5 linked regions of the Homo sapiens genome follow. The protein of the gene in region 3 purifies or fractionates together with the protein of the main gene of each other region. This does not show direct contact. Each region holds a gene or a part of one and is shown on either strand. Other genes may lie near its edges. The genes, in order: MSRB3, RAB11FIP5, SRI, GLRX5 and GUK1.

Region 1 (3,810 bases), on a different chromosome or scaffold from region 3:
TGGACAGATTCCGTGTTAAGCTTCTATCACTTTTTCTTCCTCATCTAATAGCAGAAAGTGCTGATTATGTCATAGGGTAAATGCCTAACTGGTTTTTGGGGATAGTTAAGCCCAGGCCTTAAGACAGTTTGATATTCAGTTTTGTTATTTAGGTCTGGGTTAGGGATACCGCCAGAGAGCATCCAAACATTTCTGTGGTTGGGAAGGCTAGTTATCTGTGAGCATTCCAGATGAAATAGCCTATAATGGGTTATCACCTTTTGATCTTACCTCAGAGAAGATTGAATTGGATCTACCTATCTGATTTAGCAGAATTAAACTGGATTTGGATGGAAGGGTAATCAGCTATTTAATTTGCCAGTTGTTAGTTAGCATTTCTTCTTGCTGTATCTCAAGGATTTACTTTGAATATTCTGTATTTTCTCTTTCCTGCCCATGATGGGTTTTCCTTTTAAAATGCTCAGCACAGGCTGGGTGTGGTGGCTCACGCCTGTAATCCCAGCACTTTAGGAGGCCGAGGCAGGCAGATCACCTGAGGTCAGGAGTTTGAGACCAGCCTGGCCAACACGGTGAAACCCTGTCTCTATGAAAAATACAAAAATTAGCCGGGCATGGTGGTGGGCACCTGTAATCCCAACTACTCAGGAGGCTGAGGCAGGAGAATAACTTGAACCAGGGAAGCGGATGTTGCAGTGAGCCAAGATCATGCCACTGCACTCCAGCCTGGGCGACAAGAGCAAAACTCTGTCTCAAAAAAAAAAAAAAATTGCTCAGCACAGTCCCTCATCCATGTTCATATATTTGTCTGTATAGTATGCTGAAGTCATGTTTATGGCTTTAAGGGAAGTACAAAAAAGGAAAGTATAGAAAAGATCAAACAAACGCATCGAACAATTGACTTTATGAAAGATTTTGGTTATTGCCTCATTTAAGCTTCTATTGCAGTAACAGAAATGAACTAGTTTTAGCAAAAAGGAAGAAAGGAATTTGTTGGAAAACCATTGGAAGTCAAATGCAGGCAGACCTCATTTAGGGCCTGAGATAAGGGACTGGAAAAATCTAGAACATTCCCTGTCTCTAGTTTGCTTCACTGTTTTTTCTTTGCTGGTGTTTTTTTTTTTTTTTTTCTCTTCATGGTTAGATGTGGCTGCTCAGCAGCTCCTGAGTATTTATGTGTCCCTTCATAAGGAGGGACTATATTATTGAGCCTTGATCCTAAATTCCTGGGAGGTAGAACCTGATAGACACAGTTTAGGTCACATGGTTGACCTAGATTTTCCCTAAAGTCTCTTCTAATTCTAGAGTATCTGATGTACGTAGTACAGCCATGTAGATGGTTTGATTTTGCATTTTTCCATTTTATGTTATGAGGTTATAGTCCTTAAAATGAATTGTGAACATTTTCTCTGATAACAACTAATTCACTCTGCAAATAATCATCTGCATATTTTCAGGAATTCACTGAATAAAATGCTGACCTCCAGTGGCTCTTTAGGATAAGTTCATTAAAACTATAAGTGGTAGAGATATTTGAAACAGTAATAGCTTAGGGACTGAGAATTTATCAGTTGTTTTCCTATTTCTCACACATATCTAACATTTTCTGTCTCTACCTTTCCTTTAGGCTGTTCCTACTGCCTGGACCTCTTCTCTATCACAACAGGTTGAAGTCTTTAAGGCCTCTGTCAGATGGTAGTTTGTGACATTTTCTTCATACCACAGAATTTGTAATTTCCTTGTGCTTCTAAGGTGTTTTGGACCATGGTTGGAGTACAAGTTTTACTATATTGTCTTGTGTTGTAGTTAAGTCCATATATATTCAACTTCACTAAACTATAAATTCCATATGTCAGTGAATCACCTAGAATTTTTTTTTTTTTTTGAGATAGGATCTCACTCTGTCACCCAGACTGGAGTGCAGTGGCACACTCATGGCTCACTGCAGCCTCGAACTCCCTAGAATCAGGTGATTCTCCCACTCCAGCCTTCTGAGTAGCTGGGCCTACAGGCACCTGCCACCATGCCCAGCTAATTGTAGTATTTTTTTGTAGAGATGGGGTTTCACCATGTTGGCCAGGCTGGTCTTAAACTCCTGACCTCAAGTGATCTGCCAGCCTTGGCTTCCCAAAGTGCTAGGATTACAGGCATGAGCCACTGCACTCAGCTAGAAGAATTCTGATAGGCTCTGAGCATCCATTGTTCCAGGTATAACAATTCTGACTTTTTCAGATACTCTGATGCTTTTATGGTATCCTGCTTGCTGCTGTCTTCTTTTGAAATTGGAGTTCAATCACTCTGCTTTTCTTTCTTAATACTTGTCTGTTTCCTAGATTTTACATGCTTTTCCATGAACACTAATTTCCTGTATGAAGAGGGAATATACAAATGATAGGATGCTTTCCTGTAACTGAGATGGCAGGGGGAAGGAGAGGACAGCAACTCATACAGAAGGAAATCAGCTTTTGTTGAGCACCCAGAATTTACCAGATCAGATAGAGAGGACAGGTGTAGAAGAAAATGAGCATGTATAAAGTGGAATAGTGGGACAATAAAGTACAAATATGGAAAATTAAGTGGAAGGCTTTTAATGCTGTTAGGGAACTTGGATTGGGTTAGTAAGTTATGAGACTGACATTTTTGATCCTTGAAATGTCATAATCAGAGGTGAATTATAGGTTATATAATCCAATAGTTTAGATAATTAATTAAATTGGGAAATAAGTCATAGGACCAATAAAGAAGTGTTTTGAGAGTTTCTCTTAAGGAATGAAGACCTAACGAGAATAGCGGCACCGCAGTAGAAGTGTTGCTAAAGTACATTGGACAGAAATAAGCAATTGGATATTGGGAAAGAAAGGGATGAATAAAAGGTGACATGAGATGTTAAGCCTGGGTGATGGAGAGAATGTGATCTCAGCAGGTTTGTGGGTGGAGGTAAAAATAAGTTTTGTTCTAGATCTCTTGCTTTTGAGGTGCTGGTAGGATATTCCTGTGGAGATGTGTAGTAGAATCCGAAGTGTGAAACTGGAACTTGGAGGGAGAGATCAAGGCTGGAAATAAAACATGTATGAGTAAGGAGAGTTAAAAATAAAGAGAAAAAGAGAGCATTTGTTAGCTGGAGTAAAAGGAAGGGTACAGGAAAAGCATCATAGAGAAGAGAGAATTTGATCTGACTTTAAAAGATGCCGAGTCGGTATATGGCATTCTGTTCACGAGCTTTCCTTGTTGAGGGGACATCACATTTACTAACTTGAGAGATAATACATGGGAAGTGTTGGACAAAGGATACTGCATCCAGAATGACCTTTCTAAACTACAAAATCATTTCCCCTCTTTCCTGCTTAACCCTCCCTCAGTGGCTTCTTATCTTTCTTCAGATAAAGGACTGACTCCTAAATGTCTTCATCATCACCAATTTGAACACACATTGTGTCTCACACTCCTCCTCGTTCCTCACTCTTCTTCCCCAAGACTGGACAGAATGTGAAGAAGATATGATTTCCACCAGATGGAGTACTCTTTATACTTTTTTGGGGTCCTTTATGGTTACTTTTTGTGGCCATGGTCAGGTTCTTATCCATAAAATAATTATTGATAACTTCCTAATGTAAAATGAAAAATAATGATAAATCACATACTTCCCTCATTTTTACAGAATTCCTTGCTTGCCTTATCTCTTCAAGTGTTGACTGCAAGGTTCCTGTACACTTACTTGAGTTGGCCACTCCGGTCACTATACCCTGATCTCTGACACTTGGCCGTGGTAGCCTGGAGCAGCATTGTTACTGGGCATTGCTGTGATTGGGTTAC
Region 2 (3,810 bases), on a different chromosome or scaffold from region 3:
TCTCAGAAACAAGTTGGAAAAACAATGATTTTAAGGGCCTTGTGTGAGAACCCCAGTGGACTGGAAGATGGGAGACCTAGGTTCTAGTCCTGGCTCTGCCTTACTAAGTGGCTTGAAGCAGCCATTTCACCTCTGTAAAATGAGGGTGATAAAATCATGCAGTTAAAGACAAGGTAAAGTGAAACTAGAACTATTATATTCAGAGTATGGTGACACAGTTGGAAAACCCTTTTCCCTAGAGCCTCCTCCACCCTGATGCCTCCTCTCCTCTCCAAGTGCCCACCACAGCAGCCTGCCTCACACACTGGCACACAGGAGCTGTGTGGGCCTCAAGCCAACCCCTGCTGTCTCCCCGCATCCACCGCCTACCCCATCTTTTGATTTGGTATCTACAGTAAAACTGCAAGCCAGACATAATTGCAGGACAGGATACAGCCTCTTATCAGGCCAGAAGATGATTCTTATCACCTCCTCTGGCACCATGCCTGGCACCAGCAACCTTTGGAGGGAGCCCAGGTCCTCATTCATGAGTTCCCCCTGCCTCTGTGGGGACAGCTCACTCATCCCTCCTCAGACCCCAGCCAGGTCCAGCCTCCCTCCCTCCTGGGCACAAGCACTTTTAATCCTCATCCTAATGCTGTAGGCTCCAAAGGTCTGTCACTGTCAGCTCACCCAGCACAAGGAAAAGCTGCAAAAATGGCTGGAGACAAGTCAAACCACAGAGAGCAACAGAAAAGATGTAGGGTTGATAGCACAGTGTAGGGAGAAAAGCATCAGGCTTAGACATCAGAAATCTGGCTGCCACTAAAGAGTTGTGTGACCTTGGACAGGTCATTCCACCTCCTGAGACCCCAGTCTCCATATTCGCAAAAATGGTGATCCCCCTGTCTGCCCTCAGGGAAGAATGAAATGAGGTGATACTGGGAAGGCACCCTTAAAAGTAGGCCAAACCACACAGAAAGATGTGGGTTTATTGTCTATCAAAGGCCTTTTACAGGCCATCATCAGCCCCATATAAGTGAGGTGGCCCAGGACCAAAAAGCAACAACCCTGCCCAGGAGGAAGGAGAGAACCCGCAAGATGACCTCTCTCAGGGGATCTCTGGCAGGTGGAAAAATAAAGAAATTCCACTTAACCCATCCCCCTCCCCAGTGTGCTCCTAACCCCATATTCACCCTGACCAGGAGACTCAGGTTGAGGAAGACAAAACCAAGTGGCGATGGTCCCCTCTGCCAAGGTCTCAGTTCAGACCCCACAACAGGGGGAAACAAACAATAACTTCCCTGCCAGGCTCATGGGAAGTACAGAACTGTGTGGTGAGAACGTTGCATTTGGGAACAAGGAGGGAGGGAAGAAAAAACACAACGCATTTGCCTTTAAATGCAGAAAACACCTTTGGAAGGTTACACAAGAACTGGTAATGTTGGATGTCTCTGAAGAGAGGAGCTAGGTGACTTAAGGTGGGTCAAGGGAAATTTTTTTCATTATGTGCCCTTCTGTACCTTTAGAATTTGGACCAGGTGAACTACTCAAAAGTAAATAGGGGCCAGGTGTGGTGGCTCACACCTGTAATCCCAGCACTTTGGGAGGCTGAGGCAGGCAGATCACTTGAGGTCAGGAGTTCGAGACCAGCCTGGCCAACATGGTCTCTACTAAAAATACAAAAATTAGCTGGGCGTGGTGGCACGCACCTGTAGTCCCAGCTGCTCGGTAGGCTGAGGCAGGAGAATCACTTGAACCTGGGAGGCGGAGGCTGTAGTGAGCCAAGATCACACCATTGCACTCCAGCCTGGGCAACACAGCAAGACTCTGTCTCAAAAAACAAAACAAAACAAAACAAAACTAAATAGGAAGTAAAGAAAGTCCTGCTGTTTTGCTGAGAGTGGCACACAGGGAACTAAGCTTGGCTCCCCTCACTCCCTCTCCTGGCCCAGTCCCACCACACTCACAGTTTCCCTGCCTCCAACTCACCCTGCCTCTAATCAGGTCTCACCTGTTATTCAAGGCCTCACCTCTCCCAAGAAGCCCACCCTGATCACTCCAACTGGTGAGCTCCCTCTTCTCCTGACCCCCTCATTCTCTCACGCTTTTTATATGCTGCTTTGTAGAGGAATTGTCCTTGCTGCGTTAGGCTTATCTCAAACATATTTTAGCCCTTCTGGAGAAAGGGCTATCCACTTTATTTCCCTGGTTTCCCCCACAGCACTGACCTAGGCACAGTGGTTACAATGGTTGTCCAGTAATTGCTTCCTGGATGTTGTGAAACAGAAGGGAAAAAATAGCAAATGACTGTATTGCTGCAGGAGGAAGAACAGGATGGCTTGGAGTGTTCTGTCACAGTAAAACCAGCATGTGACGTCTTGGGAAGGATTACGGAGTCTGGTATGTGCTGATGCCCCCAAGCCCTGCTTGAAAGGAGCAAATCTCCCCAGGGTGGAAAGTGCCCTGGTGGAAAGTGAGGCTGACCTTCTCAGGCCTCACTCCACTCCTTTTTTTATTTTTATTTTTTGAGACAGGATCTTGCTCTGTCACCCAGGCTGGAGTGCAGTGGGGCAATCATTGCTAATCGCAGCCTTGAACTCCCGGGCTCAAGTGATCCTCCCACCTCAGCCTCCTGAGTAGCTGGGACTACTGGTGTGCACCACCATGCCCAGCTAATTTTTTGTATTTTTGTAGAAATGGAGTCTTGCTATGTTGCCTAGGTTGCTCTTGAACTCTTGGCCTCCAGTGATCCTCCTGACGCGGCCTCCCAAAGTGCTGGGATTACAGGCATGAGCCACCACACCCAGCCCTCACTCCACTCCCGAGAGGTATCTGGTGGCAGTGACTCCCTCCCAAAGTATGAGACAACATCCCCCAGCCTCTGGGACAGACATAAGGCTAGAGCTGCAGACCAAATGTGCTTATCCCAATAAACCAAGGACTCACCCAGGAGAAGCAGGTCATGCCTACAGAGCACCAGATTAACCCCCGAGATCCATGTCAAGGAGAAGAGAGGAAGCCTTGGCAGGCAGCAGCTGAGCACCTGGCCCTGTGCAGAGCAGGGTCATGGAAGACATGGGGGAAGACTGAGGTGGGCAGTGTGGTGTGGTGGCCAAGAGCATAGACTGGGAAGCCAGACTGCCTGGGTTCACATCCTGACTTTGTGCCATGTGCTGTGGTCAAGTCCAGTGACTCATGCCTATAATCTCAGCACTTTGGGAAGCTGAGGCAAGAGGATCACTTGAGAGTTCATGGCTGCAGTGAGCTATGATGGCACCACTGCATGCCAGCCTCAGTGATGGAGCCAGACCCTGACCCCACCCCCTCAAAAAAAAGAAAGAAAAAGCAAAGTCACTTTACCTCTCCGTGCCAAGGTTTCCTCAGCTGTTAAACAGCACCTACACCTCAAGGGCTTGCTGTGGACAAATGGAAGTCCAGACCTTAAGACAGTGCCAGCACCCAGATAGGCCTTCATCAGCAATGCACTAGACCAACGAGGCAATGAAAATAATGCACCAAAACAGGTGCCACATGCTCCAGATGTGGGGATTCAGAGAAGGCTGGGGAGGCAGATGGGTTCCATGATGGCCGACAGGTCTCTGGTGTATGTCCCCTCCTCACAGAGGAGGAGACCACAGCCAGCGCCAGTGGCTCTGTCTGCTCCGAACATCTCCAGGGCTCCCTGTCTAGGCCCCAAAACACAGCACTTGGCTATAGGGCTTCCTCCAAATGTAGGGAGATATCCAGGCTTCCCCCCCTTTGGAATCTCTCCCCCACCAGTGGCCCACTCTTGGCCTTTCAGGCCTCTAGAACTGCCTTTGGATTGGA
Region 3 (3,810 bases):
GGTGCCATCCATCCATACCAGTGCATTTTTAGTGAATACTTCCTATGAGCTAGGTGCTGGCTCTGTAGCCACAATCAATGCCTGGGTGTTGGGAAAAGCACTGGGATAAGAGAGAGGCTGTGGAATCACATAGAATGGGCACATAACCCAGACAGGAGTCAGGAAAGTTTTCCTTGCAGAATTGATACCTAAGCTGAGCAGAAATGAGGCCGACCATGAAGTGAGTGGGATGGGGAAGTTGTGTCCTAGGTTGTTAGAACAGCATGTGCAGAAGACCCAGAAATAGCGTGGTTCAGTCAAGAAATTGAGAAATTCTCCATGAAGATAGTGTACGGGGTTGAACAAGAGTAAGAGATGAGCCTGACTTGCAAAATAAGTGTGTTACCTTATGTACCAGTTAAGGTGCTTGGACTTTATCCTGAGAGCAGTAGATCACTGATACTGGGTTTTGCATAGGAGAGCACATACTACCCCTGACTGTAAAGACTAATAAATTGGGGGACATGGAAGTAAAACAAGAGTCAGGGATGCCCATTAGGGAGCTGCTGGAGTCATACAGGTGAGAGAAATGCTAACTAAGGAGACAGTGGGGCTGGAAATGGACTCTACAGCTGTTTAGAAGGTGATTGATTATTGGTGGAGAGGGAATTGAGGAGGCTCCCAGGTTTCTGGCTTGGGTTACTGCTGAGTGGATGGGGGTGCCATTCATTAACAGAGACAGAGAAGCTGTCTGCCTCATAGCCCCTTCAATACCTTCATGTGAGCCCAACACAGTTGGCTCTGCGCTGTGGTTGTCAGGCCGTCCAGAGCAGTTCTTAAACTTTAGCAGCATTGGCATCACCTGGAAAGCTTACAAAAACCAGATTGCTGGGTCATGCCCTAGAGTTTCTCATTCAGAGGTCTGGAGTGAGTCCTGAGAATTTCACCTCTAACAGGTTTCCATGTGATGCTGGTTCAGGTTGAACCAGCTTCTTTAACATGAATATCTATCACCTGCACATCTGCTAAAATTCAGCTTCTGATTTTATTGGTGTAGGGTAAGGGCTGAGATTCTGCAGTTCTTCAAGCTCCTGGGTGATGCTAATATGGCTGGTCCAGGAATCACACTTTGAGTAGAATGGTGGTCTCAACCTTGGCTGCTCACTAGAATCATCTGAAAAGCTTTTTAAAAATACAAATACCTGGGTCCCACACTCAGAGTTCCTGATTTAATTGTTCTATGGTGCAGCCCAGGTATCAGAATCTTTTAAAGCTTTGATTCAGATAAGCACAAGTGTGGAGAACTACAGCTCCAGATTAGAGGGACTTCATACCTCCACACAACTTAAAAGTCAGAATGAAGAATCTACCAGCTCTTTCCCAAACTGTAAAAAGTGCTTCCTCCTCCTCTCACCTCAGAGAATATTATCTGTGGATCAAATGGAGATTGAAGGACCAAAATAGAAATAGTCACTAGTCTTTTATTTCCAGTAAAGCATATGCCAAACACAGGAATCTATTAAATGTGTAAAACCTATAGTTTGCACTGTTGGGAGACATTACAGTAATGAGCGCAGTTGTGTTTTAATTTCAGTTTGGTTTGAGAAAAAATATGAAGCTACAAAGAGCTGTTAAAAATGTTCTGTGTGTTAACAAGCTTGCAGAATTTATACCAGCTTTTCCCACGTGACCCTTGTCACTTCTGCCATTTAGCGTTGTAGCTTCTTTGTACCTATACAATTTCTTCAGTCATTGATTCCCATTAATTCAATGTAAGAGGTGGTTTTTAATTTCCTAATGCTTAGGTTACCAGTAACCACACCCATTGCATGTGCTCTGGTTTGGTTACATAAGTGAGGTACCAAAATGCCCTCATAATACTCCTAAACTGTAGGTAAATTAAAAAGGCTTCTGAATAGTGGCCACCACTGAATTGGTCATGGGGTCTTATCTAGAGTACTCTTATTTAACACATAATTCTAACAACCATATTTATCTGGTTTCATATATAAGCTAAGAGGTCATAGACTATTTGAGGTAGGAGGTTACTGCTCAGTACCTGACATTGAAGGGAAAATAGAAAAACAAGTAATCAGACACAAAATTAGCAAAACCAGCAATTTATAGTCATTTATGAGTAGGAACAAAGCAACCCTGACTTCCCACCCACCATGTTGGATATAATACATTATGGTTCGTTATGGTGACTTGAACTCGCTATATTACAGTTTCAAAGCAAGAAAGTATGAACAGTACTATGTAATACTTTTTTTTTTTTGAGATGGAGTCTTGCCCTGTCACCCAGGCTGGAGTGCAGTGGCATGATCTCAGCTCACTGTAACCGCCTCCTCCCAGGTGCAAGCAATTCTCCTGCCTCAACCTTCTGAGTAGCTGAGATTACAGGTGTGTGCCACCAGGCCTGGCTAATTTTTATATTTTTAGTAGAGACGAGTTTTTGCCATGTTGGCCAGGCTGGTCTCAAACTCCTGACCTCAGGTGATCCGCCTGTCTCGGCACCCCCCAAAGTGCTGGGATTACAGGCGTGAGCCACCATACCCGGACTATGTAATACTTTTTAAAAGGAATTCTGTCAAAGTTATTTAAATCAAATTTGGGTTCCTAGCAAAAAATCTTCTTTATGGAGAAAAGGCTACTTTGAAGTTCCATATGATTAGTCACACGTAAATTGATAGCATATAAAAATAAAAGTGTATAATAATCATATTTCTAATTAATTTGAATGTATCCAGTGTAATGTGAATTTTTGGATTTGTGTTAATATGTATGTACTTTTCTTGATTTAACAGCTTTTAACCTGGAGACTTGCCGGCTTATGGTTTCAATGCTGGATGTATCCTTTACTTTGATTGTTGTCTAGAATAATTTTTTCTAAAATTCTAAAGGAATTCATCTTAGAATTAATATCTAGTAAACACAAAGTAATAAATGATCACTAAAAAGCTTTCTGAAATAATTAGCTTCTATTATAGGGTGGAATTTGGTGTGAATAAAGGAAGAAAAGAAATTTAGTAAACAGAATGTTGTTCAGGAATTTAAGGAAACATCAGAGTATTATAGAACAAGTACAGAGTCCAGAGTGTCAGGACAGCTTTTTTTCTTTAACATTGATTCCTCTGCAAGTGATGGGATTTTTCACATCCCACTTGTTGGACTGAGTTTAGGTAGTGCTGACTATCCAGTGCATTCCATCCCACCTCATTTGTCTGGGGGCACTAAACAAGGGAATATTAGTACCAGAGATGATGCTAGGACAGAAGGGCAAACAGCATAGCCTGAAGCACCCACAAAGTACAGCCTAGTTCCAGTAACAAGACCGCTTTTTATAAGTGGTTCACAATGGCAACGCTATTTCCTTATAATCAAGTCATGTAAGTTATCTTTTCCCCACAGTAAAAATTGGCACTTGAGCTTTTTCTCCATAGCCCCTTTCTATTTTTAAATCATTAATTTTACATCATACCAAGAATAATCTACAATAACTTTTTTAGCCATTGAATATTGAATTCCCCTTATCCTTGATCTTTCATTTAATCCTTAGAAAATATCGCAAAATACAGCTCTAATCCTTGATTACAGTTCAGAGAGATATGTCTGGCACAATGGGTTTCAATGAATTTAAAGAACTCTGGGCTGTACTGAATGGCTGGAGACAACACTTTATCAGTTTTGACACTGACAGGAGTGGAACAGTAGACCCACAAGAATTGCAGAAGGCCCTGACAACAATGGGTAGGTATGGCTTACTAGAACTCTCCATTCATTGGTAGAAGTAAGTTGATTTTTATTTTTAAAACCAGGCTGGGTGCAGTG
Region 4 (3,810 bases), on a different chromosome or scaffold from region 3:
ACCTGCCTGTTCTTGACAGCAGCTGACGGTTTATCAAAATTAAACTTAGCTGCTTCTTTAATTTTTAGATGAATAGGTGTAATAGGCAGCTGGCATCAAGGCCAAACGTTGGCACCCTTCTTAATGACTATGCTCTTTTCCATTTTTAAGAAAGTTGATTACCAGTTTAAATATTTAAGGAAATACCCAATTGCTTCCTATAGAGTGAAGTGAGAAACTCCTAATAATAATAAAAGACTACTCTTCATAAGTTGAATATTAAAATGAATCCTGCGGATCCACAAGTAACTGTTTACACATGGTTAATCTCTCTCACACTTTAGTTTTCAAAAACTGCAATATGCAGTGGTAGTTCTTACAAATATCACTTGAAATTAACTCAGAATCAGAGAGCTACTCCTGAAAATTAGAAAATCACATCCAAGAATGAATTTTAATGATAATCATTATTTCATATGTGATAGACGGTGGTGATTCCATCTGGGGCAGAAAATGCTGACTGCAAAGTTATATGGCAGAGTAACACTAGGAACTGGGAGTTAGGAGGCTATCTTACAAAGTCAGTTTACACGCATCTAATGCTCCACCAAAAAAACCCATACAAACAAATTCATATTCCAAAGTATCAACCCAGAAAGAGTACAGAAATGATACTTTAAAATTCCCTTCCAGAACTTTCAAAAGGTATTTTTCAAAATTCATCACATTCAGAACACTGGGCATTACTCCTGATTTGGACACTAAATTACGAGAGCAGCATAATCATAGTTTTCTTTCTTTTTATTTTTCCTGGTAGAACCTCACTACAGTAGCTTCAGAATCTGATATGAGTTCCAACTCTGTCTCTTACCTACTAGACTCTGTGATCTTGGGCAAGTTACACCACCTCTGAGAGTCACAATTTCTTCATATTCTCTAATTTAGAGAATGGCGTTAAGTCGAGATAAGATGATCTGAGCTGAAAGCACGGAAATCAGTAGACCCTCACTAGAGGAAAAGCAAGGCACGGGGCAGAGTGGGCAAGGCACAGGCTTAAGGATCAGTAGATCTGGTTTGCTAGCCTGTAAATGTAGCCTCAGACAAATCTGTTAATCTTTTAGCCTCAGTTTCCTCATCTGTAAAATGGGAATATACTCTACGCCTCACATATTATGAAGATTCCATGATATCTAAGGAATGAAATGAATTGAGCTCCCAGCATAGTACCAGGTACAGTGTGGACATTCTCTCCATACCAACATGCTCCACCACCCACCCTTCACAGTAATGCTTTTCTGAGAAAGGCAACAGAAAAAGCATAGGAAAATAAAGCAGGAAAAAGTGATTAAGTATACCCTAAAGTAATGAAAACGCCATTCAGGCCAGGTGCGGTGGCTCACACCTGTAATCCCAGCACTTTGGGAGGCCAAGGCTGGTGCATCACCTGAGGTCAGGAGTTCAAGACCAGCCTGGCCAACATGGTGAAACCCTGTCCCTACTAAAAATAAAAAAAATTAGCCAGGCATGGTGCCAGGTGCCTGCAATCCCAGCTCCTTGGGAGGCTGAGGCAGGAGAATCGCTTGAACCCGGGAGGCAGGGGTGGCAGTGAGCCGAGATTGCCCCCTGCACTTCAGCCTAGGCAGCAGAGTAACACTCTCTCAAAAAAAAAAAAATATATATATATATACCATTTATTGAGTTAAGGATTACTGAGTTTCATACTCTTTAAGCGTTTTACAAAAATAATCTTATTTAATCTTTACAAAAATCTGACAAGGCAGGTACAATTATCCCTACTTTACATAAGATGAAGAAACTAAGGCTCAGAAGGGTTAAGTAACTTACCGAAACTCACAGTGACAGCGCAGTGAAACCAGGATTTATATCCAGGCTTCCAGGAGTACAAAAGCCCAGACTCTTAACCACATGCTACCTGAGTCCCTCACCAGAGGTGGCCTCTACCCTCTAGCTGCCATCTCACTCCTGCCCAGGAGCTACAAGTGCACTGCACACATATCTGCAATATATGGGACTGTTTTATGCCTTTAACATTTACATATACAAATGGTATTATGCCATAATTACGTGTTTGCAACTTGCTTTTTGACTAAATATTGTATTTTTGAGATTCAGCCATGTTAAATACATCTAGATCTAGTTCATTTTAACTACAGTTTAGCTTTCCATCATGTGACTAAAGTTTATTTATCTGGTCTGCTGCTAATAGACCAAGATCCCTTCCTGTCAGTTTTTCATTATTGCAAGCCATGCTGCAATGAACGCGCCAACACAGGTATCCTAACACAGAGGTCCCCAACCTTTTTGGCACCAGGGACTGGTTTTGTGGAAGACAATTTTTCCACGGACCAGGGAAGGGTGGGGATAGCTTCGGGATGAAACGGTTCCACCTCACATCATCAGGCATTAGTTACATTCTCGTAAGGAACGCACAACCTAGATTCCTCACATGTGCAGTTCACAATAGAGTTTGTGCTCCTATGAGAACCTAATGTCGTCACTGATGTGGCAGGAGGCGGAGCTCAGGCGGTAAAGCTCACTTACCCACCGCTTACCTCCTGCTGTAAGTCCTCGATCCCTGGCCTGGGGGTTGGGGACCCATGTCCTAACACACACATGCAGAAGTCAGTCTCTAGGCCAGGGACAGATAAACTATGGTCTTCAGGCCAAATCCAGTCTACTTCGTAATTAAAGCTGTATTTTCATAAATAAAGTTTTATTGAAACTCAGCCTGCTCATTCATCTACATATTGCCCATGACTGACTTCAGGCTATATAACAGCAGAGTTGAATAGATGCAACAAAAACCACACAGCCCACAAAGCCTGACGTACTTAGTCTCTGGCCCTTTACTAGGGTAAGTTTGCAGATCCCCCTCTCTAGAATATATACCTAGGAGTCACGCAGCTGGGTCTTAGGCTCTGTTCACCCATAGCTTGACTGGGTACTGATAGTTACTCCTCCAAAGTGTTGGTACCATTTTATACTCCCATCTGCAGCATACATGTGCACCACACAAGCACATACACACAACTTGTTATCCAACTTTTAAGGTTCACCAGCATGACATGTTTCACTACTGTCTTCAATTCCCTGATACTGAAAAGGTGGAGCGTATTTTCAAATGCTTAATAAACATTCAACAACAGGATATGGTTATTTATTCAACAAATCATTTGAGTCCCTATTCTGTCACTGTTCCAGATGCAAGGACTACAATGATGATCTAAATCGGCAGCAAATGTTTATAATGCCTTTAAGGCCGCAGAGTTTGCAATATAATGATAAATAAAAGCAGTATTTATTTATTTATTAAAATGCTCACTGAAAGCTTGCTTTGCATAAGCGGTACACACAGCACCACAGGCAGTGGCATAAGACATATTCCCTCGTCTCTGGAGGGCAAAATACTATGTATAGACAAGCATGGTCTCAATGTGTTAAAAAAAAAAAAACTGTTAGGAACTAGATCTAAATGTTAATACAATAGTTTCCATAAATTACAGGTGATTTTCCTTCTTTAAACTTTTCAGTGTTTTCTACATTGCTTCCATGAGCATAAGTTCCTTTATTAAGACCAGGATTAGGAAATGATGATGTCAGTCTACTGGGACCTGATCCCTTTGTGACTGTCTTCTGTGTGCACTCCAGATAAAAAGAGAAGGACAAGAAGGTCTTGAGAAGGCCAGAACACAATGCTGCCTCATAGTCACCTTTGTTCCTTGGGTCACAGTCTCAAGATGTGTCTGTATCACACTCCTGGGAACCCAGTACTCAAAACTAGGAAAGAATGTTTTCCTCCGGTTTAGGCAC
Region 5 (3,396 bases), on a different chromosome or scaffold from region 3:
GCACGGCAAGGGGCGGGGGTGCTGTTGGGAAGGGGGTCCCTTGTCTTGAATCAGGCAGGCAGAGTAGCCCTTTTTACCAGGACTCCAGAAGACAGCTCAAAAGTGCTGATAAGTGCCGAGTCCAGGACAGGGCTGGGGACAGCAGCACTGTGGCCGCCTCCAAGGTGGGAGGAAGACAGCCCCAGGCCTTGGCCGGCCTCTCACACTGTACCCAAGGAAGGCGACACCACGCTGTGGCGCTGACACCCTGATTGAGTTCACCGGCCCTTGGAGGCAAGGACCCATCTCACAGATTAGGGATTGATGGGGGCAGGAGACGGGCAGCACAGCCAACACAGCTGCAGGGCCCAGCAGCCCTGCCCACACTGGGGGTGCTCCAGCCATAGGGCCCCACCCCACTCACCTTTGCCGTTCTCCTCGCCGGGCCTCGGGTTCCTCGTGGTATCTAGCAGAGAGACCTGTCACCCATCGGGGGCTGCTCGGAGCCCAATGCCCCACCCAGCGTTTCCCTTGCAGTCCCGACAGCACTTGAGCCCCAGGATGCAGGCAGCCAGTGAAGCACACCACTGGGAAGGCGCAGGAGCCTACAAGGCGAGGGTTCTCCCAGAAAGAAACACTGTGGCCCAGTTATCAGTACTCAACAGACCCAGGGAAGGGAGACACAGGCACGCAGGACAGCAGGAGTGTGATAACCTCAGGTTCTGTGTGGGGGGGAGTGTGCAAGAGTTCGGACAGTCTGCAGGGTGGGTGTGCCTGTTGGGTTTGGGCTCCTGGCCTGCTCACGGTGCTAGGACTACTCAGCAGCCTTGAGGTCTACGCACCCCTCCACGAGAGCCCTGGACTCACGGGACACGCTGAAGCCAAAGATGCCGCTGTGCTCCTGGAGCAGCCTCTTCAGCAGGGTGCTCTTCCCAGCTCCCGAAGGCCCGCTCAGCACCACAGGCCTGGGGCCCGACATGCCTGGGGGTGAGAAGAGAGGCTGTGGATAGCAGTGCGGCCTCTAGTCCCCATCTGCTGAGCTGCCTCTGCCTTCCTGAATTCATGGCAGGAAAGGGCTGACCCAGGGATGGAGACATTGGCCTGAGAGTCTCCTGAGAGCCTGGGTGTTCTTCCCCCTGAGCTCTGCCACGTTGGAAGGGCCGGCATGCACAGGGCGGCCCTCAGACCAGGCTCTGGGCACACGGGAGACGAATGGAAGGCCGGCTTTACTGGGTTCTCAGCAGGGGAGCCCCCCAACTGAAACCCACTGACCCTGTCAGCCTCCCCAGGGGTCCCTAGCAAGCAATGCTGTCTACTCTGATGACACCCTACCTGGGAGCTGCCGTCCCCACCTGGTGGAGTCACCTCCAAGCCCTCTGGGAGCCTGCTCTGAGACCCCCACCCCACCCAGGAGTCCAGCCATTTGCTCCCATGCATGGTGCTGAGTGCTGGGCTGCTAGGTCTGGAATGGAAGTGTCCCTGTCCCCGCCTCTGTCCTCTGGTACCTTGCCCTGCAGATATGGTCTTGTAAAGATCTACTGAATCTACACCTATTCCAGGAACTTCTCATAGGACTTGGGACTCCTATCTGTGATGCTGGTAATGCCAGAGGGGGTTGGAGGCCTCCCTCCCAGCCCCCAAGGGAAAGGCAAACAGGATCCTAGCTTGGACACGTGGCAGGTGAGGGCCCGGGAGCTGGCCTTTGCCTGGTGGGAATCCTCCCCAAGAACAGGGCCTACCTGTTTGCTGAGGTGCAGCCTCTGTAGTCAGCCTGGGGTGGGTCTGTCTGCTGGACTGAGAGCTGGGGGTGCTGAGTCCCTAATCCCCACTACGCCTGCTTCTGGCCCCACCCTTCTAAGCCACGAATAAATCCCCAGGGGGCCTGGCCCTGGGCCCTTGCAGGGAAGCAGCCCCATCCACCTGCTCTGCGGCTGTGCAGGAAGGAAAAGACAGCTCCAGCTCTTGCCCCAAGACCTGCACCTGCCCTGCCCTCCCAGTCCACATGAGCTGCACACACAGGGCCAGGGCAGCGTCTTCGAGTTGGGATGGGGAGCAGAGCTGAGGAGTGGGGCCGTGCACTGCAGCTGTGTTCAGGGGCTGGGCTAGAGGGAAGCGGATGGACCCCTGGCCACACGCACACCTTGGACACAACTCAGGCGAGGCGTGAATGGCCTCCTCCTGTTTAGGGCACAGCCGCCTGTGGGCAGACGAGCAGACAGTGGGAAGGACCTGAGGATGCCCTCCTAATCCCCAATTTAGGCCACCGAGGTAATCTCACAAATGCACCACGGCTGCAACTCCATCATGCACAGCGACACCCACCACACACATGCCACTCCCAGGCACAAAGGTATGCAGGATGTGTGCACAAACCTACCACAAACACACACACATGCATGCACACACAAACACACACACAAATGCACGCACACCAAGCAAATGCACACACACCACACATGTGTACCTGCAAAGGTACACATGCACACGCATACATGTCATTGATCACAAACACACCGGACCCCCAGTTAAAAAGACTCAAGAGGAAGGGAACTGCAGGACACCCACCCAGAAGTCCATGTGCTCTCCATAAGGGATAGACTCCTCCCTCCTTACTGCCTCTTCTGGGCTTTTTGTCACAAGCACACATCGTTTTCATCTCACCATGCACCCCATGCCCTCCTGGCTCTCCCACCCGCAGAATTTGCCCCTGCGCTTAGCTCGGGCCTCCCCACTAACCTGGCTCCTGCTGCTCACCCAGCCCTGCCACCTCCTCTACGTGCCAGCCAACCATCAGCACGCACTGCAGTGGCCAGGGTTCTTTATCCATTCAGCTTCTCCCAGCCAGCGAGCCCTGCAACCTCCACAGCCTGGTTCCCATAATGCACTAGCTAGGAGCCCCCCAGAGTCTCCCACAATCAATGAGCCATGCCACTTGTGTGAATTTCTGGCCCCTGCTTCTCGCCAGGGTGGAAGGGGTACAGTTCTCAGGACACATCCAGCAATTGCTACACACCTACTTGAAGCACTGAGATCACAGAAATTATGACTTGATGGTATTATGGTGACTTTTCTAATACGAAGGAGAAAAAGTAAAGCTAAATCATGTGCTTCGAAGGACCCGATATGGGAGAGCTACTCAAATGGTCCTGTGGGCTGGACCCCATGTGAGCTTCTGTCCTGTTGCTCCACTGAGCTGGCCCTTCTTAAGGTCACTCTGCCCTGCCAACCCACAACCAGCATGGCACTGGTGGGCCTGACAGGGCTGCCCCAAGGCCGGTCCTGCCCTGTTCCCCCCAGCCCCTGGCTCCAAGCTCTTCGGGTCTGAACCTAGATGCTACGTGACTATAAACCCACACAGAAGGAAACACAGTGGTGACCTCCACTGACCAGGCCTCCCCTCCTCCCTCCTGAGGGAGC

Evidence for each region.
Region 1: the proteins of SRI (region 3) and MSRB3 fractionate together in Homo sapiens (co-fractionation; one large-scale study listed by BioGRID). This does not show direct contact.
Region 2: the proteins of SRI (region 3) and RAB11FIP5 fractionate together in Homo sapiens (co-fractionation; one large-scale study listed by BioGRID). This does not show direct contact.
Region 4: the proteins of SRI (region 3) and GLRX5 fractionate together in Homo sapiens (co-fractionation; one large-scale study listed by BioGRID). This does not show direct contact.
Region 5: the proteins of SRI (region 3) and GUK1 fractionate together in Homo sapiens (co-fractionation; one large-scale study listed by BioGRID). This does not show direct contact.

Annotation. Positions count from the first base shown.
Region 1 is NC_000012.12:65,281,567-65,285,376, forward strand, and holds part of MSRB3 (methionine-R-sulfoxide reductase B3 isoform 2 precursor), read left to right. Parts: intron 1-3,810. UniProt on the Homo sapiens protein: Catalyzes the reduction of free and protein-bound methionine sulfoxide to methionine. Isoform 2 is essential for hearing.
Region 2 is NC_000002.12:73,102,752-73,106,561, forward strand, and holds part of RAB11FIP5 (rab11 family-interacting protein 5), read right to left. Parts: intron 1-3,810. UniProt on the Homo sapiens protein: Rab effector involved in protein trafficking from apical recycling endosomes to the apical plasma membrane. Involved in insulin granule exocytosis. May regulate V-ATPase intracellular transport in response to extracellular acidosis.
Region 3 is NC_000007.14:88,209,902-88,213,711, reverse strand, and holds part of SRI (sorcin), read left to right. Parts: intron 1-2,786; coding exon 2,787-2,830; intron 2,831-3,581; coding exon 3,582-3,729; intron 3,730-3,810. UniProt on the Homo sapiens protein: Calcium-binding protein that modulates excitation-contraction coupling in the heart. Contributes to calcium homeostasis in the heart sarcoplasmic reticulum. Modulates the activity of RYR2 calcium channels.
Region 4 is NC_000014.9:95,537,740-95,541,549, reverse strand, and holds part of GLRX5 (glutaredoxin-related protein 5, mitochondrial precursor), read right to left. Parts: intron 1-3,810.
Region 5 is NC_000001.11:228,143,075-228,146,470, reverse strand, and holds part of GUK1 (guanylate kinase), read right to left. Parts: intron 1,776-3,396; exon of another isoform or gene 1,719-1,775; intron 961-1,718; coding exon 847-960; intron 446-846; coding exon 404-445; intron 1-403. UniProt on the Homo sapiens protein: Catalyzes the phosphorylation of GMP to GDP. Essential enzyme for recycling GMP and indirectly, cyclic GMP (cGMP). Involved in the cGMP metabolism in photoreceptors. It may also have a role in the survival and growth progression of some tumors.